Homo sapiens: one gene and its partners. The protein of the gene in region 5 purifies or fractionates together with the protein of the main gene of each other region. This does not show direct contact. Each region holds a gene or a part of one and is shown on either strand. Other genes may lie near its edges. The genes, in order: PLXNA2, SORL1, ATF6B, GALNT18, OS9, TTC17 and EDEM3.

Evidence for each region.
Region 1: the proteins of OS9 (region 5) and PLXNA2 purify together in Homo sapiens (affinity purification with mass spectrometry; 2 studies listed by BioGRID and IntAct, with this or other methods). This does not show direct contact.
Region 2: the proteins of OS9 (region 5) and SORL1 purify together in Homo sapiens (affinity purification with mass spectrometry; 2 studies listed by BioGRID and IntAct, with this or other methods). This does not show direct contact.
Region 3: the proteins of OS9 (region 5) and ATF6B purify together in Homo sapiens (affinity purification with mass spectrometry; 2 studies listed by BioGRID and IntAct, with this or other methods). This does not show direct contact.
Region 4: the proteins of OS9 (region 5) and GALNT18 purify together in Homo sapiens (affinity purification with mass spectrometry; 2 studies listed by BioGRID and IntAct, with this or other methods). This does not show direct contact.
Region 6: the proteins of OS9 (region 5) and TTC17 purify together in Homo sapiens (affinity purification with mass spectrometry; 2 studies listed by BioGRID and IntAct, with this or other methods). This does not show direct contact.
Region 7: the proteins of OS9 (region 5) and EDEM3 purify together in Homo sapiens (affinity purification with western blotting; 2 studies listed by BioGRID and IntAct, with this or other methods). This does not show direct contact.

Annotation. Positions count from the first base shown.
Region 1 is NC_000001.11:208,213,385-208,216,884, reverse strand, and holds part of PLXNA2 (plexin-A2 precursor), read left to right. Parts: coding exon 1-150; intron 151-166; exon of another isoform or gene 167-250; intron 251-3,500. UniProt on the Homo sapiens protein: Coreceptor for SEMA3A and SEMA6A. Necessary for signaling by SEMA6A and class 3 semaphorins and subsequent remodeling of the cytoskeleton. Plays a role in axon guidance, invasive growth and cell migration.
Region 2 is NC_000011.10:121,630,314-121,634,263, reverse strand, and holds the end of SORL1 (sortilin-related receptor preproprotein), read right to left. Parts: 3' UTR 501-3,950; downstream 1-500. UniProt on the Homo sapiens protein: Sorting receptor that directs several proteins to their correct location within the cell. Along with AP-1 complex, involved Golgi apparatus - endosome sorting.
Region 3 is NC_000006.12:32,121,747-32,125,246, forward strand, and holds part of ATF6B (cyclic AMP-dependent transcription factor ATF-6 beta), read right to left. Parts: intron 1-3,500.
Region 4 is NC_000011.10:11,615,506-11,619,005, forward strand, and holds part of GALNT18 (polypeptide N-acetylgalactosaminyltransferase 18), read right to left. Parts: intron 1-3,500. UniProt on the Homo sapiens protein: Catalyzes the initial reaction in O-linked oligosaccharide biosynthesis, the transfer of an N-acetyl-D-galactosamine (GalNAc) residue from UDP-GalNAc to a serine or threonine residue on the protein receptor.
Region 5 is NC_000012.12:57,714,632-57,718,131, reverse strand, and holds part of OS9 (protein OS-9 isoform 1 precursor), read right to left. Parts: intron 2,373-3,500; coding exon 2,162-2,372; intron 2,044-2,161; coding exon of another isoform or gene 2,041-2,043; coding exon 1,939-2,040; intron 1,721-1,938; coding exon 1,620-1,720; intron 1,440-1,619; coding exon 1,388-1,439; intron 263-1,387; coding exon 174-262; intron 1-173. UniProt on the Homo sapiens protein: Lectin component of the HRD1 complex, which functions in endoplasmic reticulum (ER) quality control and ER-associated degradation (ERAD).
Region 6 is NC_000011.10:43,407,420-43,410,919, forward strand, and holds part of TTC17 (tetratricopeptide repeat protein 17 isoform 1 precursor), read left to right. Parts: coding exon 1-158; intron 159-3,500. UniProt on the Homo sapiens protein: Plays a role in primary ciliogenesis by modulating actin polymerization.
Region 7 is NC_000001.11:184,702,859-184,706,358, forward strand, and holds part of EDEM3 (ER degradation-enhancing alpha-mannosidase-like protein 3 isoform 2 precursor), read right to left. Parts: intron 139-3,500; coding exon 1-138. UniProt on the Homo sapiens protein: Involved in endoplasmic reticulum-associated degradation (ERAD). Accelerates the glycoprotein ERAD by proteasomes, by catalyzing mannose trimming from Man8GlcNAc2 to Man7GlcNAc2 in the N-glycans.

The DNA of each region.
Region 1 (3,500 bases), on a different chromosome or scaffold from region 5:
CACCACCCGCCCGATGACTCTGCCCTGTGTGCCTTCCCTATCCGGGCCATCAACTTGCAGATCAAGGAGCGCCTGCAGTCCTGCTACCAGGGCGAGGGCAACCTGGAGCTCAACTGGCTGCTGGGGAAGGACGTCCAGTGCACCAAGGCGGTAAGGAGGCACACACCTCGCTCTGCTCCTGCTCCATGACACAGGTTCCAACCTTCCTGTCCATGCCCTGGGGCACATCTGCTCCCACACCACCATGGACCTGAAATGAAAGAGGTTTTCAGACTCAGGTTATCAGGTGGTAACCAATAACGCAGGGTCTTACGTACACCAGATACTTGAGATATGTGTGTTGATTTGTTGTCATTTCAAATATATGTATTGAGTGCCTACATCACATCAGGTGCTATTGTAAATGCTGCAGGCTTCAGCTGTGAACCATACAACCCTACAAAGCTCACTGCCCTCATGGAGATTACACGCTAGTTGGGTGAGACAAATGAACACATAATACATGTTAGTTTGCCAAATGGTGATAATGGCTATAGAGAAAAATAAACAGGAAAGGGGGAGAGGCAGTAGCTGAGAGGACTGACTCATTGAGAAAGTGGTGTCTAAGCAAAAACTGAGGATGGGAAGAAAGGGAGCCACACAAGTGTCCAGAGAAAGCATTCCAGAGAGAGAAAGGGTGAGGAGAATGTGCAAAGAATTCAGGGCATGCCTGGAGTGTCTGAGGAACAGTAAGGAGGCAACTGCAGCCAGATCAGAGTATGTGAGAGAAAGAGCAGCAGGTGATGGGGTCCATCAGAAGTAATGGGGACCAGGTCATGTACACACAGAGCTGTAGGCCACTGTGGTTCCCAGTGAGGGGGTCAAGTGGAGATCAGAAATCTAAGTCAGAGGAGAGGGAAGGGAGTCTGGCTTGACCAACTGATGGAAAACTGGAGAAGAATCAGGAGTGTGGGCAAAGGCAAAAGAGGAGAGGATGAAAAGCTCAGAATCCAGACCTGAGGAAAGCAGAGACAAGAAAATCAGTGGCAAGCACTGCCCTGTCAGCGGCTCATGGTGCTGCCATCAAAGTATTCATGATCCACTCTTCTTCCATCATTCATCCAACCATCCAATCATCCATTCATTTATCCACCCATCTCTCCTTTCATCCATCCCCTTTCCTTCCCTCCTTTTATTCTCCTATCCATCTATCCCTCCATCCTCCTTAGCTCTCTCCCTCCATGCATCTCTCCATCCATCCATCCATCCATCATCCATCCATCCATCTATTCACCTATTTACCTAAACCTCCATTCATCTGTCCCTGATCCTTCCCTTCATTCTTTCCTCCATCCCTTCCTCCATCCCTTCATCCATCTCTTTATCCACTCATCCCTCTTTTTTCTCCCTTAATCTATGTCTCCATATCTTTATCTATCCATCATCCATTTGTCTACCTAGCCCTCCATCTATCCATTCATCCCTCTCTTTATTCATCCACCATCATCCATCTACCCATCCCTCTATTCATTTACAAGTAGTATTGAAGATCTTCTGAATGCCTGGCACTGTACTAGGCACTGGGGTTGCAAACATAAAAAGACATGATCGGCTGGGTGCGGTGGCTCACACCTGTACTCCCAGCACTTTGGCAGGCTAAGGTAGGCAGATTGCTTGAGCTCAGGAGTTCGAGACCAGCCTGGGCAACATGACAAAACTCCGTCTCTACAAAAATTCCAAAAATTAGCTGGGTGTGGTGATGCACACCTGTAGTACCAGCTACTCTGGAGGCCTGAGCATGGGAGGTGGAGGTTGCAGTGAGCCAAGATTGTGCTACTATACTCCAGCCTGGGTGACAGAGTGAGACCCTGTCTCAGAAAAAAAAAAGACATGATCACTAGTCTCACAGATCTTATAATCTAGTAGGGGGAAGAGAGAGAGAGAGAGGAAGAGAGAGAGAGCTAGAGACAGCTGGCAACATAATGTAGTGGCTCAGAGTTTGAGGTTCTGAGACAAAAGCCAGGCTTCAAATTCCATCTGTGTTTCTTCCTGCCTTCTTCAGAAGCACCTTAGCATCTCTACATTCTTATCTGTGAGATGGAAATAATAATGCCTAGCTCATGGGATGATCAGATGAGATAATACATGGAGAGATTAGCACCATGCCTGGAAATGTTAGGTTTATTATTACACAGGGAGTTAACAGGGAGTGTGAGAAGTGCAAAAGTAGGTTTCTTGTACACAGTGCTGAGGGCTCTGGATCTGCAACCTAGAAAAAAATATATGAGACCAAGGGGCCCATACGGCTACCTTCTGAGTACTCTAAATTGAAGGTGCCTGCCGTTGGGACCAAGCACCAGTACTTGAAGCAAGAAAACATCATTCCAAGGCTACGCTTCTATTCCTGTCATCATTTGCTTGGTGTGGTAGAAGAGTCGTGGTTAAGGCTTTGAAGTAAACCAGATGGGGATTAAAAATCAGTCCTACCACTTACTCCTTGTGTGACTTTGGGCAAGTTATGTACCTGGTCTGAGCTGTAAATTTTTCGTCTTTAAAATAGAGATAATATTGTCTTCTTTTCATGGTTATTATGAGGATCAAATGGAAAATTTATGTAAAGTGCTTAGCACAATACCTGGAACATAATAAGCATTCAATAAATGGGCCGCTATGATTATTAATATTAATCACAGTAGTAAAGAGCCAGCTATTTTCTTAGTTATCTTACTGTTGTAAAATGAGGAAGCTAGACTAGATAGTCTTTGGTTTTTTTTTTTTTAACGCCAAAATTTTATGGCCACTGGCCGTAACCAATGTGGAGAGGTGGAGAGGAAATGTAACCCTCCGTAAGGGTTAAATGCTTGCAGAGTCCAGCCTAGTTCCCATAACCCAGAGGGGGCCTTGTCAGGAGGAAACTGCTGATTCCTGCCTGCTTCTGAGCCAGAGGAAAGAGGAAGATGACACTCTTCTCTGCTCCAGAGCAGAGGGACAAGCCTGGGCTAGTTACAAAAGGATAGCAAAGGCACTGGGAGAGAGGTGACAGTGAGTGGGGCCAGGACCTTAGAGTGGAGAGCCCCTTGCCTCCACCCCTTCAGCACCACACCCTTCTGGTGCAAGGGCTGCAAGAGGAATGGCCCCTTAAAGACCCTGATACTCCAAAGAACTAAGACCCAGGGACCCAGAAATATTTTGGTGGCCTTAGAGGGGAATAAGGATAAATGAAAGAAGCTGTGGTCCCAGAGCTTGATTTTAACATGACTCTGGAATAACATGGAAATCTCAGATCAAAAATTTGAGCTCTGATCCCAGAAAAGAGAGGAAGAAGGGGGCTATCACTCATTGAATAGCAGCTAGTCCTAAAGGCTAAGCTTGGCAATTTAAGTGTTATCTCACTTGCTCCTCACAATGACCCCATAAAGCAAGAGTTATCTTCCCCATTTTACAGATTAAAAAACAAAGGCTCACAAAGACTAAGTAAGTTGCTCAGATCTCCACAGCTATAAGTGATAAAGCGGGGATTT
Region 2 (3,950 bases), on a different chromosome or scaffold from region 5:
GGCTCTGGCTCAGTGTCTAAACAAAAGCAGCATACCAGAAGACCTGTTAAATTCTTAAAAACCTGCCTCCCTCCCCCACCCAGTTCCACAGCCTCCAATCCTGACTTACAGGCCCATGGCCATTCAGCTGCCCATAATAGGTACACGCAGCACTCCTCACAAGACTGTCTATGGAAACCCATAGAAGTGCTCTTAGACACACAGCTCATCTATACTGCTGTGCTTCCGTCTCTTAGATTTGAAAATTGCCTTCTTAGCAAACTGTCTCTTAGCAAATGTAGTTACAAATTTAAGGGAGCCACTTTAGTCATTGTCCCTACGGAATAATTCTGTTTACTTCAAAACAGCCAGCACATCTTCCCCCTCCTCAACCAACACAAAGACATCGTGTTCTTCAAGGATCCACCATCTGAGACCAGCTTGTTAATAACAAAATTATTCCAGGCCTTGGTGTTCTCTCATCTATGAAATAAACATCCGTTTAAAACAGACCAATCAAATGGGGTTTGGAGACTGCGTCAGCCATCTTTATTGCGCTCTAAAGAACAGCTCGAGACACACAGAGACAGTGGATTTTCAAAGAGGTGTTTTCTTGACCCAGTTAAATTTTTATTCAGTGAAAAAAGTTGACATTGAGACAAAAATTATCTTAAAGTTGTGCAACAATACAGTAAAACCTTCAGCAGATTTCAGTGACTTGGAAACTTATCGAGGCAATTGAAATTATAAATACTTAATTTCGCTTTGGAGAGAAACAAGTATACAGTGTTTCACTTTAAATAAGAGTAGAATAGGCCTTTATTTTGCCGCAAATACTTTTGATTTTGCCTAAAGTTTCTAATAGTTCATAACAAGAGTCTTTAAATGAGAAGTGACATAGAATATTTGAGGATAATGGTCCACTCCAGCATTCATGCTTATTCCATTTGAGCTATTACACATGAAACTCATACCATTCTTGGGTTATTACTTGGCTGTGACGATTTAATTCATAATATGGCTGCTCAAAATTAGTGGGCAGAAACATACATACAACCCATCCTCCCTCAACCCATTTTCGGTGCTGGTACTCCATCTGAAAACACACTTACTGTCCATGTACCCAGCAGTACATATCTCTTCCTATCTATTCCATATCTCAGTCTTGCATAGAAAGTAGTCTATATAAACTTAATGCACTGGCTTTTATTACACAAAAATTGTACCTGAAAGGCAGCACACACTCCAGTTAAGAAAAATAACACAACAGGAATGTCAAGATACAATCCCAACACAAGATTCTGCACAGAGTTTTAGAGTCAATTCCTAAAATCAATATGGGATGATATTCAGTTTAGTTATGTCTCTGGATGCCTTCTCTAAGGGACTCATCCAACTGTCTGCAGAAGGAAGAAAATTTTCAGGAATTCCCCATGACTCCCTTCATGAAGAAGGGACTGACCAAACCTGATAGGATGGTGTTTCTGCCCTAAGGAAGTGTACTGGAAATATAATCTTACTAGATGCAGTGACCACTTGGTAAGCATCTGAAGGCAGCATTCGCCAAGAAGGAGTAGGCGCTCATCTCTAAGGGGCTCACCATACTATTGCTCTCCCAAGCTTCCCCTGAAAATGGCCAGTTCTGAGAAGGGTTACATTCCCTAAATTGCTGAGTACAGCTTCATCTAGTGGGCCAAACATGATGGGCAGGAGAGAACAGGCAGCTGTGTGTCTTCTGTCTGTCCCACCCAAATATCCCTGGTGATGCTACCAAAGACAGAACCCCAGGAATTACTTGTCCAAAAGTCAGAGTTTCAACCAGTTACCCAGAATGATAACTATTTACCCAGCTTGTCAAGGTAGCCAGTAGTTCCTGGAGCTTCTCACCTGTCTGGAACTAGGACTGCACAGACATGGCCTCTTCCTGGAATCCTCTGTAGAACTCCACTCTCTAACATTTTATCCATGTGGACTCGTATCTCATAAAGCTCAAGGGGCATTCAATACATCCAGGAGTAAAATCGGTTTCCAGAGAAAACTCATAAGCAAACCCCCTGCCCACCAATTTTTAGAGGCCCATCGTGGTCCACATGGATGCAAGCATCTGACATTCTAATGTATGCCAGGAGAGAATAAAACCTTTTTCCTGCACAGTGTGAACTTCTGAGGTGGCATCTCCAACAAGGTACAAAAGCCCCTTCTTCACAAGCAAGCAGGGACTCCGATTGGTCACAGTGAAGACAGTTATGTGGTCACCTTCAGAGGCTGCCTGTAGTACAAGGCATTTGTTTTCATTTTCTATTGGCACTCCAACCTCTGGATTCTTTCAGACAGCATATATACATGAAATCCCCACAAAGCTACACAGAGGGAAACAGGAGTGTGTGCTTCAAAAGTTCATAAAAATATACAATTTACATATAGCTGCAGCTATCTAGCTTAGTCTTCAGGAACTTAGCTCTTCTGTTTATATAAAATACTCTAGCCCTAAAAGGCTGCTTTTTTTCAAACAGCACAGTGGCATTTTCCAAGGAGAGGGGTGATGGCCAGTCTACAGTACTGTGCACTAAGCATTGGGAGGCACTGGTAGCTAGAACCGGATGCTCGGAAATATCTCAAGCTGCCAACTGGAGACATATGCTCTGTAAAAAGGCTTGCCTATGGAATAACTGAAAATAACATCTCAGAGCCTTTTATATCAGCTTTTACAAATGCCACCAAAAAGTTGGCAGAAAAAGAAAAGAAAATACACTTCCTAGTGGTTCAATTAAATGACTTGCCTCCCACCAGGTTGTTAATGATTCAACTATTTAAAGAGCTTATTAAAGGGGAGGTGGTAGGGCTTAGAGTTTTGAACAAATCTCTACGGTAAGACAAGATAAAGCCAAAAAAAATTCCAGTCTTTAAAAAAAAAAACTTAGGAAAGTGACAGGAAAGAAGAGAAAATACGCTAGAAGAAGGCTTATCATTACCACCAGTTGTTAACATGAAATACAGTCCTACCCGTATGGCAAACTAAAGGTCGACAGCTTAAAATACTCATCTAAGTATACATATAAATAAAAATTTCAAAAACTAAAAAATTTAATTGGCTCTTTCTTTGTTTTCTAAACAATCCCTAAGTAGAATGAAACTATATTATCACCCAAGAATGATACTTGTGGTTAAAAGAAACTAAACACTTGTGAGAAGGTGATGCCTCGCACCTAAGCGGGGATGGGGTTTTACAAAGCTTGCACGTCAAGGACACATATTCAGAGACATGACTTTGGAATATTCCCAGACCTCACTGCTTCTTGGCTGAAAGGAAATTCTTCAGTGAGAATCATACAGCACAAGTCACAACGATGCTCGACATTGGTGCCCACAACACTAAGCCTAAATAAAGGGCTTGCATCAGCCCACGATGGATTCTACATAAGTATCAAGTGGCCATGGTTTGAATACACGGGTGGCATTTTAAAGGCAGAAGAAAAAAAGCACAGCTTGTTTTACAGAGAGAATAAATGAACAAACTCTAGTGCTCCTGCTGTTGTTAACTGGATTGAGTAGTCTCAACTTTTTAGATCTTCTCTATCTCTATGAGAATGTACAGCACTGTCTCTTTAGATTGGGTGGGGGCATGGGTGAGGGAGATGGAAGAAGAGGAGAAAAAAAAAGAGAAGGCACTGTCCAATTCAAAATGACTGCATATATCAGTATGGATTTTTAAGGACAATAAGTGGCCATCTCAAACCAAATACATAATTTTACATCTGAGATCCTTCAGTAGTAAGTAAAAACAAAAAATGGAAAATGGAAAAATTATGTACTCTATTAGCCAGTGTATGGATCATGGCACAGATCTAGAACTCTCCCCCACAACCAGGGTAAGTTTTTGCAATGACAATGAAACCAGTGTGTAATAAAGCAGTGTTATCATTTTGTAGCTCTCAAAGCTACATCTTGTACAGAGGCACATACAGTAAAAT
Region 3 (3,500 bases), on a different chromosome or scaffold from region 5:
CTTTGAACCTGAAAATAAAACTCTTCTGGCCCTAGATTACAGGCCATCCAGGAGGGGCAGTCACAGAGCTGCTCACCTGCTGGCTCTCCGCCCCGCTTTTCGCCTAGTGCTTCCCTTTCTCCTTTAGTGGCTCCTCTGATTTTTCTCATCCCTGCTCCATGTTCCTCAAAGCTGTCTTTGCCCTTCTGCGTTTCCCTCTTTCTTGTTCACAGAACTTGTCTATTCACATAGAATAGGCCTGAGCAGGGGAAGTGGCAGGGGGGTCTCCAGCATTCACATGGCCCAAATTCCTATCTTGCTGGATTTCCACCTTATCCCTGCCCAATGCATCTCCATGCTGACAACCGCCAAGTGTGCATCTCCCCCTGGCTGCTCACCTGCACCAGATTCTGACTTCCAAGCTGCCTGCTGGTCCCTTCCATTCTCATGCCTCACCAGTCACCCAAATCTAACTGGCCATAAATGAGGCTTCCTGATTGCCCCGTCACACAAGTTTTCCTCCCAGGCACCAAACAGCAAAGCCTCAGTCACCTCTGAGCCTCCATGGCCTCCAATAAATCTGCCTTTATGACTTGTTGATCACTCCATGAAAGAAAATGCTAGGCCCCATGTCGGTGAAATAAAACCCTTCTGAGGGCCAGATTCAGCCCACAGGTCAACAGTCCACCACTACCTCTGGTCCATACCGTTCACTTTGGTACTTAATTATATGATCACTAAGATTGCTTTTTAAAACTTCAATTTATATTTTTGAATAGATAATACAGTCATGATACAAATCCAAACGAACAAAGGAAAATTAAGTCAAAAAAAAAATCTTGGCGGGGCACGGTGGCTCACGCCTGTAATCCCAGCACTTTGGGAGGCCGAGGCAGGTGGATCACGAGGTCAGGAGATCGAGACCATCCTGGCTAACACGGTGAAACCCCGTCTCTACTAAAAAAATAGAAAAATTAGCCAGGCGTGGTGGCGGACGCCTGTAGTCCCAGCAACTTGGGAGACTGAGGGAGGAGAATGGCATGAACCCAGGGGGCGGAGCTTGCAGTGAGCCGAGATTGCGCCACTGCACTCCAGCCTGGGTAGAGCGAGACTCTGTCTCAAAAAAAAAAAAAAAAAAAACTTCCCTTCCCGGTCCTCCAGTCACTCAGATTCCCTACACAGAGATAACCACTATCAGAACTATTTAACCATGGCTGGGCATGGTGGCTCACGCCTGTAATCCCAGCACTTTGGGAGGCCGACACCCAACGCAGGTGGATTGCTTGAAGCCAGGAGTTTGACACCAGCCTGAACAACATGGCAAAACCCTGTCTCTACCAAAAATACAAAAAAATAGCCGGACATGGTGGCACGTGCCTGTAGTCCTAGCTATTAGGGGGGCTGAGGCAGGACAATAGCTTAAACCCAGGAAACGGAGGTTGCAGTGAGTGGAGATCACGCCAATGCACTCTAGCCTGGGTGACAGGGCAAAACTCTGTCTCAAAAAAAAAAAAAAAAAAAAAAAAAAGGGAACTATTTAACCATGATGTATTATAACCCTCACAAAACTCTCCAAAAGCAAGAACTATGTCTCATGTCCATTGAGGGTAAAGTACAGGCCCTCAAAAAATACCTAAGTATGGAGGAGAATCTGACTCTAATAACACTATGCAATGCAAAGCCACCAACAATCCTTACAATCCTTTTGCTGCTAATAGCAGTGGGCGATCTCGGCTCACTGCAAGCTCCGCCTCCCGGGTTCACCCCATTCTCCTGCCTCAGCCTCCCGAGTAGCTGAGACTACAGGTGCCTGCCACCATGCCTGGCTAATTTTTTGTATTTTTAGTAGAGATGGCGCTTCACTGTGTTAGCCCGAATGGTCTTGATCTCCTGACCTCGTGATCTGCCCGCCTTGGCCTCCCAAAGTGCTGGGATTACAGGTGTGAACCACTGTGCCTGGCCTGCTAATGGTATTTCAATCCTTATTTTGTGTATCTTTTTTATAACATGTATTAATCTGCTAGATATAATCTGTTTGTCCCTCCAAATCCACTTTCCATCCCTCCCTGCTGTGCTCCCTGAGATCCAGGGAGAATCTGAATGGACTGCATCAGCGGGCTCCCTGGTTGGAGTTCAGCCAGTGAGAGATGGTGCCAGGAGATCCAGAAGGTACTTTGAAATCAACAATCAACATGTCAACTGGGCATGGTGGCTTACGCCTGTAATCCCAGCACTTTGGGAGCCAAAGTGGGTGGATCACCTGAGGTCGGGAATTCAAGACCAGCCTAACATGAAAGAAGCCCTGTCTCTACTAAAAATACAAAATTAGCCAGGCGTGGTGGAGCATGCCTGTAATCCCAGCTACTCAGGAGGCTGAGGCAGGAGAATCGCTTGAACCCAGGAGGCAGAGATTACAGTGAGCCAAGATCACACCACTATTGCACTCCAGCCTGGGCAACAAGAGTGAAGCTCCATAACAACAACAACAACAGAATCAACATGTCCAACGCTGAATTCATCATCTTCCCTGACCAGAAAGCCCCTGCTTTTGCAGTCTCCATCCAGTGAACAGTAACATCACCCACCCACAGCCATCCTAGCCACAAACCTCTTTGACTCCTACCTCTCTCCAATGTCCAGGAGGTCACAACTCATCTATTCCACTTCATTCTTTCTCAAGTCTGCTTTCTTCATGACATCCGAATATCTTACTTGATCAACTGCATAAGCTTCTTCCTTGGTTCTCTTGCCTCTGGCCCTGCCCCTCTGCAACCCATTCTCTACTTTGCCACTAGAATCATCTTCCTAATCATATTACTTCCCTGCTTAATTCTCCAAAGGCCCCCACCTATCCACAGGATAAAAGCTAAGAGCCCCTTAGCAGGGGCCCCACCTGGCCCTGTAGCCCCTGCAGTTCCACATCACTCCCCAAATCCTTCTTACATCCACTCTGAAGAAATGCAGGGTCCTCAGACACAAGTCAACCCCCACACTGTCCTCCTGGCTAATTTCTACGTGTCCTTTAAAACTCTCAGGAAACCCTTCTTCCAGGGGCACATCCCAGATTCAGCGCCAATGTGGATGAAATGTCCCCTCTTATGAGCTTTCATGGTACCCTCTAGTGATTTTTTTTTTTTTTCCAGACGGAGTCTTGCTCTTTTGCCCAGGATGGAGTGCAGTGGCGTGATCTCGGCTCACTGCAAGCTCCGCCTCCCGGGTTCATGCCATTCTCCTGCCTCAGCCTCCCAAGTAGCTGGGACTACAGGCTAATTTTTTGTATTTTTAGTAGACACGGGGTTTCACCATCTTAGCCAGGATGGTCTCAATCTCCTGACCTCGTGATCCGCCCACCTCGGCCTCCCAAAGTGCTGGGATTACAAGCATGAGCCACCACACCCAGCCCCACCTCTAGTGATTTCTATCCTAGAATGACCACACCTGTATTGACTGGTACTTGTCTTTCTCCCATTACCAAATCACAGGGTTTGAAAGTCAGCATGGTGGTCAGGTCTTGTTCATCT
Region 4 (3,500 bases), on a different chromosome or scaffold from region 5:
AGGGTAAATAGATGTTACAAGAACACCACCCAGAAATTCAATTTCCTTTTAGATTTATTTACTCTCCTGAATTTGTTTATACCACCATCATCCCTCACAAAAATGTAACAGTCTGATCTTTCCTCTTTTCCTGAAACAGTTATTTTCAACTTTTTTTTTAAAGAAGTACAACTTTTTATAAAATGAAATATTTTATAGAATGCCAAATAGAAAACAGAAGACAGTGGAGTTTTGTTGTTTGCAGGGAGGGGAGGGAGCACCTACAGGCAGAGTCTGGGAGACCCCACTTAACCCTTTTAATTCTCAGGCCCCAGATCAAACCTTCTACAAGTTTAGGTCTCCTGGGTACACAGTTTGAAAACCACTGCCCTAAGGCATCTATGTAAAATTAAAATTATGTATGTAACATATAATACAGGCAAAATATTTATGTATCAAAAAAATTTGTAAAATACACAAATCACAAACACTGAGTCTTTTTTTCTTCTTCTTCTTCTTCTTTTTTTCTTTGTAGAGATGGGGGTCTCACCATGTTGTCCAGGTTGGTCTTGAACTCCTGGGCTCAAGTGATCCTCCCACCTTGGCCTCCTAAAGTGCTGGGATTATAGGTATAAGCCACCACGCCTGGCCAAACACTGATAGTCTTAGAGAACAATAAGCAAGGACACAAATAGTCCCACAAGATAAAACAAATACCAGGGGTGGGGGAGGATATTAAGTTCTAGAGTAATCAAAGGAGTACAAATCAAAAGAATAGAGCATTTGACAGGGATTACATTTACTCGGAAAAATTTGAATGATAACACCCAATGCTGGCCAGGCTCCATGACTTTGGTACAATAAGACACTGTTGGTGGCTGTAAAGAAAGCCTTTCCTTCTGAAAAAACAATCTTTCATAAAAATGTTCAGACTCTTTGAGTCAGTACTAATCCCACTTCTGGAAAGACATCCTTAAACATAATTCAAAAAACAGTGAGGTGAAGATGTTCATTTCTGCTCTAATTATAATAGCAAAACAAATGTCCAATAATAGGAAAGTGGTTGAATCAATAATAGTATACTGATGACAGAATACTATGCAGTCATTAAAAATACAGTAAAAGTTCTCTTTAGAAACTCTCCATTTAATCAATTCTCCAGATTAACTATGCTTGCCATTCCCTCTGTAACAAACCCTATTTGTCTCTAGTACCACTGCCCACAGCTCCTGCAAATAGTTGAGTTTTACACTTACCAGTGGTCCACTGGGTTTGTTCTCAAACGTGTTTACACTATTTGTACTTGTCACTGTAACGGCATAACCTAATCACGTATTATATAAACCAATGAAATATGACGGCTAAAAAGATGAGTGTTGTTTCTAAGAAAATTACTTTAAGTTCTAAGTGCTTTGCAAAGGTTTTATAAACGGTAGTCAGTTAAAGAATAGCAATCAAATTACATGTGAGCAAAATCATTGCAAAAGATCAGACAAAAATCGTAACAATTTAGGCTACTACACTGAGACTGCTTCATAAGCACCTTTAAGTTTCCAATGAATTTTAAAGAAAACAGAACTATGGGATATTATGGGAGTGGTTTGTGCAAGGAAGATGAACAGGACGCCAATTGGCAGATGCATCCCAAAGACAGAACTTTGGCCTGATATCAAAAGTCTAGCAAATGAATGTACATTTTGGAAAACATTAAAATAAAAATATTTAATTGTATGTATGTAATACTTTGTTGTACTCTCCTCTTTAACCAATTTTTCTATTAACTAACTCAAGCCCTGACCACGTTGACTAAAAGGGATTCTTTGTCCTTTGAAAACAAGTCCGCTATGACAAGGACCAAGAGTGCCCATACTCCTGTAGAGTGTCTCTAGTATACAGTTCACCACTGTAATCACTTTCTCAGTGCAGTGTCTGGCACACATTAGGTCTCCAACAGATAAATGTTAAACCAATAAACTATGTAGCAAATATGGAAAAAATAGTGCTTCGTTAACAAAAAGAAAGTGAACAAAGCAGAATATAAAATTACATGTAAATCATGACTACACCTTCATTTTGAAATATGGAGGCAAATGAACAAATCCAGAAGGAAATGCTCAAAATGCAAACTGATTTTTAGGGTAGAATGAATTATGGGCAATTTTATGCATTTTTAAATATTTTCTTAAACATTGGCACATTCTTTTCCATATTCAGAAAGCTACTAAGAAAAGAAGAAAGCTATCTTTATTTTTACTGAATTTCCAAAATAAGAACTGAATCAACATTTCCATTTCCTGCACTCTCCAACACTGAGAACTCCTTTAGCAGATTCTTGCTTCATCCGCCTCACCGTGTCAAGCCATCAGATCTTTCTACTCCTAAGATGGAGAGAACCTGACCCTTACTAACATTTACTTTGTGTTTCTAAACCCCCAGGATGCTTTTTTTAAAAACTCATAAGTTATCCACCCTCTCATTTAACGTCTATTTGGTCAAAAAACTTCCCAAAACTGCAATTTACATTCCCAAGAGATTCCCAAACACCATCTAATTAAATCATTCAATCAGAAAACAAATTAAAATGAAATATCACTGCAACTCCCAAGACGAAAATAAACTTTTCAGTCATGACTAGAACAGACCTCTGGGGTGATGCTCCAAAGCCTCTTCTAATTGCAAGTCCTATGGAACATCCTGCAGAACATTTTGTGACATTTGCAGCTTCAAGGAGACTTTCCTTCTAACAAAAAGAGGAGCCTGGACAAGACTCCAAAGCAAAACACCTTTTTTGGAGAGTGGTAACACTTTCATTAATAACCAACGTGGCCATAGGCATCAGCACTCATCCATTCATCCACGCTTCCACCCCACAGCTACTTTCTGCAGAATGTGCCAGGGACTGTCCTGCATGTTCAGTAAACATTAGTTAAAGGACTGGAACCTCTGCCTCTTGGCATGAAACAAAGCAAAACCTGAGTTTATCTATGGAGTTTCCAAGTGGGAAGGCTGCTGACTCCCTCACCCCTCAGCCATCCTCTGACACCCACTTCCACCACTGTCAACAGACTCCAAGGGACCCTGGGGCCCTCCTGGGAGACAGTTTAGTACGTGGGTAAGAACTTAGACTTCTGAAGCCACACTAGCTGAGCTTACATCCCTATACTATCATATACCAGTGTGTGACCCTGGACAAATCATATACCCTCTCCCTGCCTCAGTTTCCATATCTGTAAAATGGAGCAAATATTACCTACTTCATAAGGTTGTGAAGATTAAATAAGTCAATATATGTAAAGTGTTTAGAATAGGGCCTGACATATCCTAGGTGCTATGTTATTTTAGCTCTTATTATTATTACCGCTTATTCCCTCCAGTTCAGCAAAGTAAACTGGATTGTTCAAAGGGCTATGCTGACTAGAGGGAACTTGACAGTGGGTTACACATAAACAGCTTGTACCATCAAGCACAAGAGCTTGATCTTATTGTCCTTTACCACCCTCTGCCTTCAGAGAGCTGCACTT
Region 5 (3,500 bases):
AGTGGGGAGAAAGACAGTTGGGGTTTCAACAGAGACACATGGTCGGGGGCAGACAAACAGTAGCAGGTGTGTGGTACTGGGGGACCCAGGAGTTGAGTCCCAGGTCAGGGTAGTTTTTCAAATGCTCGCAGTTGGGAGGTGGGTTCTACCCATTCCCTAAGCACGGCCTATACCTTTTTTGTTCCACCTTTCAGCTCCTCTATGAATCGAATCAAATCCGCAGGGCTTCGAATGACTTTGACCTGCACGTTGTTCTGAAAATCTGAGATGAAAGAATAATAATCATGAACCTGTTCTGTTGTGTTTAAATTCTTTTTTTTTTTTTTTTTTTTTTTTTTTGAGACAGAGTCTTGCACTGTCACCCAAGCTGGAGCACAGTGGTGCAATCTCTGCTCACTGCAACCTCTGCCTCCCGGGTTCAAGAGATTCTCCTGCCTCAGCCTCCCAAGTAGCTGGGATTACAGGCGCCTGCCACCACACCCAGCTAATTTTTGTATTTTTAGTAGAGATGGGGTTTCACCATGTTGGCCAGGTTTGTCTTGAACTCTTGACCTCAGGTGATCCACCTGCCTCAGCCTCCCAAAGTGCTGGGATTACAGGCATGAGCCACCACGCCCGGCTCTTTTTCTTTTTCAACATGGTGTGTTACTATGTTGCCCAAGATGATCTTGAACTCCTGGGCTCAAGCAATCTTCCTGCATCAGCCTTCCAAGTAACTAGGATTACAGGTGTGCGCTACTGCGCTCCTAAATTCTCTCTGGATTCCTAAGGACAGGTAATGAGAGACCAAGGAAGGACATGGTCCCTGCCTCTAGGATTTACCTGTTTGACAGTGAGACAAGGGCAAATATTCGCCTGCAGAGAGCACCATCCTAAGGTGGACACTCTGGTAGGAGAGATGGATGCTAACAAGCTGCTAAGTCCCCACTCTTCCATGCACTTCTGAGGCCCTTCTGGCAGTCACTCTAGCTTTTAGGACTACAGAGGAGATCCTGGGGCTAAGGGCTTGTCTTCCCTGGAACCCTTCTCCTCTTTCCACAAATATTAACCATTTAGTTTATTCAGTTCCAGGCCTTCTACTGTGAATTATGGATGCATTCTCATTTAATCCCATGCAACCCTCTAAGGTAGGGGTTATTACCCTCATTTTATGGGTAAGAAAATTGAGGTTAAGTGAATTACAAAGTCACCAAGTGGTGGAGCCACTGTGTTCTGCCACCTTGCTAAAATAGCAGTGCTGTCTACAAAGAGTATTAACTCCTATAAAAATGAATTTTCTGCCGGCCTGGCTACCCAACCTCCCTCCCAGGCTTAGCTCTCCCCTCCATCCCTACCCCTGCCAATCCTAAAATATATTCAGTAAAGGAGACATGGAAGGTTCACTCACCATTGGGAGCACCAGAAGCTGAATCTGCTGCCTCAGGGCTTGGGTCCTGCTCCTGACGAGGAGAAAAGGAGAGAGTCAAGTATGAAAGCCTGTTCATGCCCTCCATACTATGAAGGCAAAGGTTCTGGGGATATCCTTGCATCCCTAGGTAGATGTAGGTCACCTCACAATGGCCCCAGCTGCAGTGACCCTCCCCATCCCCATCCTGCTCCTCTGAGGCAGCTGGTCTCACCTCAGCCGGCACCTCCTCCCCTCCTGGGGCCTGGTCCTCTGGCTCATTAAGCATCTTCCAGAAATCTGAGTCCTTACTGTCATCCTTGGTCGGGCTCGCACCTAGGGTACAGAGAACAGGGAGAGACTGATCTGACAGGAGGGGTGAGACAGAAGGGAGCAAATAGGATGGGGTCCCTTCCCCTCCTCTATCACCAAGGGAGGAGGGCCCATGGTACTTTTCCACCCCCCCCCACCCCACCAGTCAGTCAGGACAGTAAGATCAGGGGAAGGGAAGAAATGGAAGTGAGTTTCACGGAACAGGTGAAACAAGGTCCTACCTGCCATCTTTTGGGGTGCCACCCCAGACTTGGTCTCACTCCACACTTGGGGGCCTAGATCTTGCAGCTCCTCTATGATTTTATCTCCATACTGCTTTGAGTCTACTGAGAAACAGCATGCAAGCAGGCCAGGAACACATTCCTCCAGCTATTCAATACTTGATCTTTTGCCACCCCCTGCCCCCGTATCTCCCCGTCTTCTCCTCCTTCTCTAATTACTCACCGGCTTGCCTCTGAACGTAGGCCATGTACTCCTCAGGCTGTAGGGAAGGGTGACAGAGGATGGCCTGCGGTGCAGCACTGGGTGGGGGCCGGAGGAGAGGGTGGGGGCAGAGCCGAGGAGTGCGAATGGTCAGCACATAAGAGCAGGACAAGGGCTCGTCCACGCGATCGATGTAGTCCCCAGAGATACCTGCACCCTCGTCACAGAGGAACTGCCAGGACAGAAAGGATGAATACACTTAATCACCAACAATAATTTGCTTTAGTTATTAGAGCAGGTGTCTTTTACTAAGCACTGATTATCTGTCAAGCATTGTGCATACACTGTGCATATGGCACTTTACATAAATTGGCTCACTTATCACAAAGACCCAGTGAGGCGATATTGGTTTCTCAACTTCGTGCCTCAAGAAACAGGTGTGGTGCAGTTAAGGCACTTGTTCAGGTTGACCAGCCTTTAAGTGGTAAAAACAGGAACTGAATTCAGGCAGCTTAACTGTAGGTAACCAATTTATGTTTCATATTCTTGTTTTGTATAAATATTGTGTGTGTGTATATATATACTTTTATTTGCTTCATATATGTATTATTATTATTATTATTATTTTTGAGATGGAGTCTCACTCTGTCATCCAGGCTGGAGTGCAATGGCATGATCTCAGCTCACTGCAACCTCCGCCTCCTGGGTTCAAGCGATTCTCCGGCCTCAGCCTCCCGAGGAGCTGGGATTACAGGCACCTGCCATCATGCCTGGCTAATTTTTGTATTTTTGTAGAGACAGGGTTTCACCATGTTAGCCCAGCTGGTCTTGAACTCCTGACCTCAGGTGATCCACCCACCTTGGCCTCCCAAAGTGCTGGGGTTACAGGCATGAGCCACAAGGCCTGGCCTGTATTTTTTTTAAAGTGTATATATATTTGTATATAAATATGTAATTTTTATATATGTGCATATGGTAAAAAACTTCAAACAATTCTAAGATTCTTATATCATTCAGAAAGAGGGTAAAGAGATTGATTGGCCTTTGATAAATTAAGCATGCAATATTCTAATTTCTAAAATAACTATTAAAAGTAAGAGAGGCTGGTGGTTCACACCTGTAATCCCAACACTTTGGGAGGCCAAGGCAGGAGGATGGCTTGATGCCAAAAATTCAAGACCAGCCTTGGCAACATAGTGAGACTCATCTCCACAAAAAATTTTTAAAAATTAGCGAGGTGTGGTGGTGTGCACCTGTAGTCTTAGCAACTTGGGAGACTGAGGCAGGAAGATCCCTTAAGCCCAGGAGTTCAAAGTTACAGTGAGCTATGATCATGCCACACTGCATTCCAACCCGTGTG
Region 6 (3,500 bases), on a different chromosome or scaffold from region 5:
CTTTTGCTATTGCCTGTCTTCAGAGGGCTTTGAATTTAGCTCCACTTCAATACCAAGATGTTCCTCTTGTCAACTTGGCCAACCTTTTGATTCATTACGGCCTTCATCTTGATGCCACTAAGCTGCTACTTCAAGCTTTGGCCATCAATAGCTCTGAGGTGAGGTTTTAAGGGATTTCATAGTTCCGTATACTATGTAGGGTAACTCAAATTTAGATTACAATTTGTATTTTTCTAGGGAAAGCATAAAAAATGTCATGTTTTGTCTTTCACAGTAGCGTTTGCATTATTTCAAGAGAGTGTGAAAAAGCTTTTGTTGTATTTTGATGTGTTCTTTAAATTTTGAGTGAAATTTATAATTACACAGTTAAGTTTTTTTTTTTTTGGAAACTTACATTTAAATAAGAATAACATAAGCTGTAAAAATATACTGCCGCTTTTTTATGTCTGTCTGAAACATCTGGTTTGTATTTTATCCTACTCATCACAGCATGCACACTGCTTAATATTACACTGTTTTACAACTTTAATTTATAGAAATATTTATACCCTTCAAGCCAGAGGACAGTTCAAAGGTGGTTTTGATAAGAATAAATAGATACATTGATTTTCATGCCCCAAACCTCTCACATGCAGCTTATGGAGTTACATCAGTGCTTTGTAGTTCATGGTTTTGAAGATACAACTTTGGTTTTTCATATTTTAACATCTCTGATATCAGGATGGATGTTATAATTGCTGTCATTTTAGGTTTCATGAAATTCAGTTATAATAAATATACAATTAAATTGATTTTATACCTAATGTCTAAATGTTTATAGGTTTTGTATTCAAAGAAACCTTCAGAAGGGATGTGCATGAATGGTTGAGGTTTATTTATGGTGTCTGAAAACTGATTTTTTAAGGATGAGAAGAAAATATTGCCTGTTTTCTTTTGAAATACAGAAATTCACAACTGGATTTTAAGCAGAAGTTTACAATCTCAATATTATGTAACAGGTCACATTGCCAGAGAAGTACATCAAATATTTATCTAGTGCTTACTGTGTACCAGGTGCTGGTACAGTGGGAACAGATGTGATAAAGTGGGCAATGGAAAGCGCAATGCAGCCGTATTCCCTTGAAACTTTTCATGATTCCCTTTTTACTGTTTTCAGCCAAGGGACTTAGGTAGTATTCTTCTGAAGAAAAAAGACCTCCTTTAGTGATCAGTTACCTTTTGATATTTTAAAATCATACTAAAATTTTAGTTGTTAAATACCATGGTGCTACAATAAGAATAAAAAGATAAATTAATGGATCAGGGTGGGTACCCCAAAAATATACCTTTTTTTTTTCTTTGAGACAGGTTCTTGCTCTGTTGCCCAGGCTGGAGTGCAGTGGCGTGGTCACGGCTCACTGCAGCCTCCACCTCCTAGGCTCAAGTAGTGCACCCACCTCAGCCTCCCTAGTAGCTGGGACTACAGGCATGCACCACTGCGTATGGCTGAATTTTGTATTTTTTTGTAGAGATGGGGTTTCACCATGTTGCCAAGGCTGGTCTTGAACACCCGAGCTCAAGCAATCCTCCCATCTCAGCCTCCAAAAGTGATGGGATTACAGGCATGCACCACCACACCCGGCCCCAAAAATGTTCCTTAATCAGCACCCTCTTCCCAACTTTTGGAAATTTTTCCTTATAAGCATGTCTTCTATACAAATATTTCATAATGTTTCAACTCTACTGTACAGGTGATCTCTAAAAAACTTATTCCTACCTAATTTTAAAGCCCTCAATTTAAATGGTTGTATAAAGGACCAATGAATTGATATGCCACAACCTATTTTTCTGTTGCTGCATATTTAGGTTGCTAACAGTACTTAGCTATTATCAATGATGGTTTTCTGCAAAGGCCTTAAAGATTGTTAGCAGTGGAATTACTAAGTCAATAAGAGAATGAATATTTTGATGGCTCTGGCACAAAATACCAAACAACCCACTAAAATGGTTGGGCCAGTATATATTGCCATGAATAAGGTCTAAAAATATTAATTCCACCTGTGTCTTTATTAGAATTGAACAACTGAAATAACTGCCAATTTTTTTGATTGTTTACTAGAGCCAGGCACAATACTAAGCATCTTACATGTAGTAACTAATTTAATCCTCATAACAACCCTGTGAGATGGAATTTCCCCTTTGATAGATGAGGAAACTCTTAAGAGTTAAATGTACAGAGTAAGGGATTTATGGGAAGTCACAGAGCTTGGTGCTTGGTTTTGAACTCAGGGAGATTGGCCACAGGGCAAATACTCTAGTCGTGTTATACTACCTCTGAATTAACATTTATAAAACAAGTTTCGCTTGCTTAAAAATACCACCTCTCCGTTGTAACGTAAAGTTTTATCTTGTGGTTGTTTTTGTTTTTCTTTTTTCCTTTTTTCTTTTCTTTTTTTTTTTTGAGACAAAATCTTGCTCTGTCACCCAGGCTGTAGTGCAGTGACATGATCTCAGCTCACTGCAAGCTTCGCCACCCAGGTTCAAGCTCTTCTCGTGCCTCAGACTCTGGAGTAGTTGGGATTTCAGGTGCATACCACCATGCCCGGCTAATTTTTGTACTTTTAGTAGAAACAGGGTTGTATTTTAATAGAAACATGTTGGCCAGGCTGGTCTCAAACTCCTGACCTCAAGTGATCCGCCCGCCTTGACCTCCCAAAGTGCTGGGATTACAGGTGTGAGCCCTTATGCCCAACCTTGTAATTGTATTTTTAAAGTAAAAGTTTGTATACACATTTTGTTCATTTTAGAATTTTGTTTTTTAGATTTTGTGCAAACCCTTTGTATGATAAACTCTTTAACTCCATCTCTCATGTGTTAAAAATATTTTCTCTCTTTGCCTTTTTATCTTAGCATTTAAAAATTGCCCTTAAGTTTGCCAGTCTTTTCAATGTTGATTTCTATTGTTAGATTTCAAGTGTTCTCAATAAACTGTTTGTTTTTGTTTTCTATGGCTTAATCTTTGAATAGTTGGCTCTCAAATATATAAAGATCTTTTCCTGTGACGTCTCCTGGATATTTTATAGTTTTAGGCTTTACAATTAGGTCTATGATTCATTTCAAGTTAAATTTTCTTTGTAGTGTGAGGTAGGGATCAAAGTTCATATTTACACGGATATCCAGTTCTTCAGCTTCATATCTTGAGAAGACTGCCCTTTTCCTGTTGAATTACCCGTCACCTTTGCCCTGAACTCCAGACTCCTTTATTCAACAGCTTACTTGACATTTCCACTTAGATGTCTAAAGGGCGCTCTAGAACAAAAGGCCAAAACCAAACTCCTTAACGCTGTTCCAAATTTATTCTTCCCAGTCTTCCTCATTTCAGGAAATAATAAAGCTATCTTTCCAGTTGCTCAGACCAAAAACTTAGGGGCTTCCTTCATACCTTTCTCCTGTTCTCAGGGAAAATTCAGTCCACTGGCTAACCTTGTTGATTCTGTTTTCAAAATATACCTCAGATTTTA
Region 7 (3,500 bases), on a different chromosome or scaffold from region 5:
CCCGGATGGCATCCAGTATGATACTTCCTTCTTTGCTGAATAAGAACAGCATGGGGATCTTGATGTCATCTGTATCCTTTCCATCACCTGCCATCTGGAACAGAGGGGCAGTATCACTGCTGCTCCCCTCATTGTCATCTAGCCAGAAAATAAATACAGCAAACATCAAAATATCCAGCCATTAAAAAGATCTATCTACTAATTGTTACTGATTTTTTACAATGACAGAATTAATTTTATGCATCAAGAACCATAAAAACCAACATAATTTTTGGACCCATTAATTCTCATAGAAACGTATCCAAAGGAAATAATTCAAAAGTAGCGAAAAGCCCTATGCCCAAATAATTTTACTAGACTATTTATAATTGTAAACAACTGTACACCATTATAAGTAAATTATAATGACCTACTTGATAGGACACACAGAATAATAATACATTTAAAAAGTAGAATACAGAATTCTATGATTATGACTATAAAAATTTCATATGCTTATGGAAAAGCCTAGAAAGGAAAAAATCAATGACTCGGATTACAGTGATAGAACTATGAATGAATTTTATTGTTGAAAATTTCCACTACTGGCATGATTACATTGTTTTACCAAACTAAAAATGGACATTTCTTTTTTATATAATGCACACAAAGAATAGTTATGACTATAGTGCTTCTTCCTCTATAAGCTAAACTAAACAGTATTGCTATTTTGCATTGGTTAAATAATAGTAGTAGAACTATTAATAGTAGTAGTACCAGCAACATGCTGTTTTACTGAAGACGACAATCACGACCACCTCCAAATCGCATGCCAGTCTCCCAGAAGAAACTATCTGTCCTGTCTCAGGGTGCTCACTCTCATAGGACCTGCTAAGTGCAGAATGCATGACCCATCCTCTTGGTAATAATTGATTAGACAAAAGATGGCTACCTGACCCTGAGTCTCTCTGGGGGACCTGGAACTGGCACACAGAAAGACTGTTTCAGTTAGCAGGGGGTAATAGTCCAGTTGAATGACACAGACTTAGGGGCTGAGGCTGCAAACTAGAATGGCCATTTTGGAACTGAGGAACAAAGAGAGAGAAGGCTGGTGAGAAGCTGGAAAATGAAGCAGAATTGCAAAGAGAAGCAGGGAAGAAAAGTTCAGAAGGACCCAGAGGTAGAGATACAGAGAGAAAAGTGAAAAACATTCACTATCATGGATCCTGGTGATTTTTAGTTCCCACTTCTACCTCCTGGTGAATCCTAGTTGTATTTGTACTGTTTAATTCACTAAAAATAATCCATTTCTGTGTAGTGAAAAAACCTCCCTTCTTAAACCAACGTAATTATCTCCTGCAGCCACATGATTTCTAAGATAATTCGTATTTCTAACCCTTGCAACAAAAAACAGCTAATTCCTAATTTATTCATTTATATACAATTAAAACAAAAACAAAATGCTTTGTCAGAAACAAAAAACTCAGGAGAAAGAAGTCAACACAAGAAAGTTTCTCATTAAAAATTAAATTTTTGGCTGGGTGCGGTGGCTCATGGCTGTAATCCCAGCACTTTTGGAGGCCAAGGCAGACCACTTGAGGCCATGAGTTTGAGACCAACTTGGCCAACACAGCGAAACCCCTTCTCTACTAAAAATACAAAAATTAGCCAGGCTTGGTGGCACGTGCCTGTAATCCCAGCTACTCAGGAGGCTGAGGCATAAGACCTACTTAAACCTAGAGGTGGAGGTTGTAGTGAGCCAAGATCATGCCACTGCACTCTAGCCTGGGTGACAAAGCAAGACTCTGTCTCAAAAAAAAAAAAAAAAAAAAAAAAAAAAAAATTTCTGAGAGTAAGGATCATCATCTCTTATTTATTTATCCACAGAACCCAGTATACCATTTTCCAACTAATAGCTACCAAAAAAAACATTTGACGGGCCAGGCTTGGTGGCTCATGACTGTAATCCCAGCACTGTGGGAGGCCAAGGCAGGCAGAACACCTGAGGTCAGGCGTTCAAGACCAGCCTGGCCAACATGGAGAAACCCCATCTCTACTAAAAAGAAAAAAATATATATAAAAATTAGCCAGGCGTGGTGGCAGGCACCTGTAATCCCAGCTACTCGGGAGACTGAGGCAGGGAGAATTGCTTGAACCTGAGAGATGGAGGTTGCAGTGAGCCAAGATCACGCCACTGCATTCCAACCTGGGTGACAGAGCAAGACACCATCTCAAAACAAACAAAACAAAAATTGACAATTATTGCATACTATAGAAGATCATGAGAATTAGACTTCACTGAAAAATATAAAAAACCAAAATACTACACAAAGAAATATTTTTAAACATTAATGCATAAATTCTACACTTTATACTTTACATTTTCATTTTGAAGTCTTGGTAAGAACTGTTCAAAATGATAGTGATGGTTAATATAATAAATTCTGCAATAAAACTAATCTAAGTGTGGGAAATACCCAAGGATAAAGAGCATGATTTAAGTCAGGGGTCGGCAAATCTCTTCTGTAACTGGCTAGATGATGAATAAATATTTCAGGCTTTGTAGTTCTCTCCTGTAAGTACTCAACTCCATCACTGCAGTTCAAAGCAGTCATAGACCATACACAAACAAATTGGCATGACTGTGTCCCAATAAAACTTTTATTTACAAAAATGGGCAATGAGCTGGATTTGGCCTATAGTCTTGTAGTTTGCCAACTGCTGATTTAAGTCATTAAACAGGACTTCTCCTAATGTTTATTAATAAAATTTATGCATCCATTAAATCAACATAATAAGTGTTAATATTCTGTTTTACCTGAACTATTTTTTTTTATTTACCTTAACTATTGGGCGGCAGGGGAGGGGGGAATCCAAAATGGATTTCCCTGTGAGAGAAGCTGTACAAAAGAACTCACAATCAGCATATTGTGAGCCCAGGTCTTACAGTTCTTTCTGAATGTAAACTCCTATTTACTTTAAAACAGAAAAATTTATATTTCCCCTAATAGTCATGGCCTGTTTATCATGATATAAGTGATTGTCTATGAAAGATAAAAAAGCAAAACCCACTAGTTGATACATATAGGTAAGATGATTTAAAGGTGGTAACTTGTCATTTCGGTAGAAAAAGATCCAAGGGGATAAAGATCTGCTAGCAATACTGTAAACCCTGTTATAGTAGCACTTATCCTATGTCTGCTATTATGCCAAGAAATTTTATATATCTTTAAACCTTACAATCACCTAAAATATATTTATTATCACTTCCACTGGAGCTCAAAAATATTCTACTATCAAATAAAAAAAAATTATACTATTTAATCTACAGATTAAAAAACTGAAGCTAGGCCAAGGTTACACTGCAATTTTGTGGTAGAGCCAGGAACTGTACTCTCATGTGTCTGCCTCCAAAGCCTGCATCTTTGTGGAGTAATGGAAATTTTCAATGGCTCCCCACTGGACGTGGCACAGTGTAATTCTTGCCCTTCGGGGGTTATGGATCTCATGGGCACCTTTTC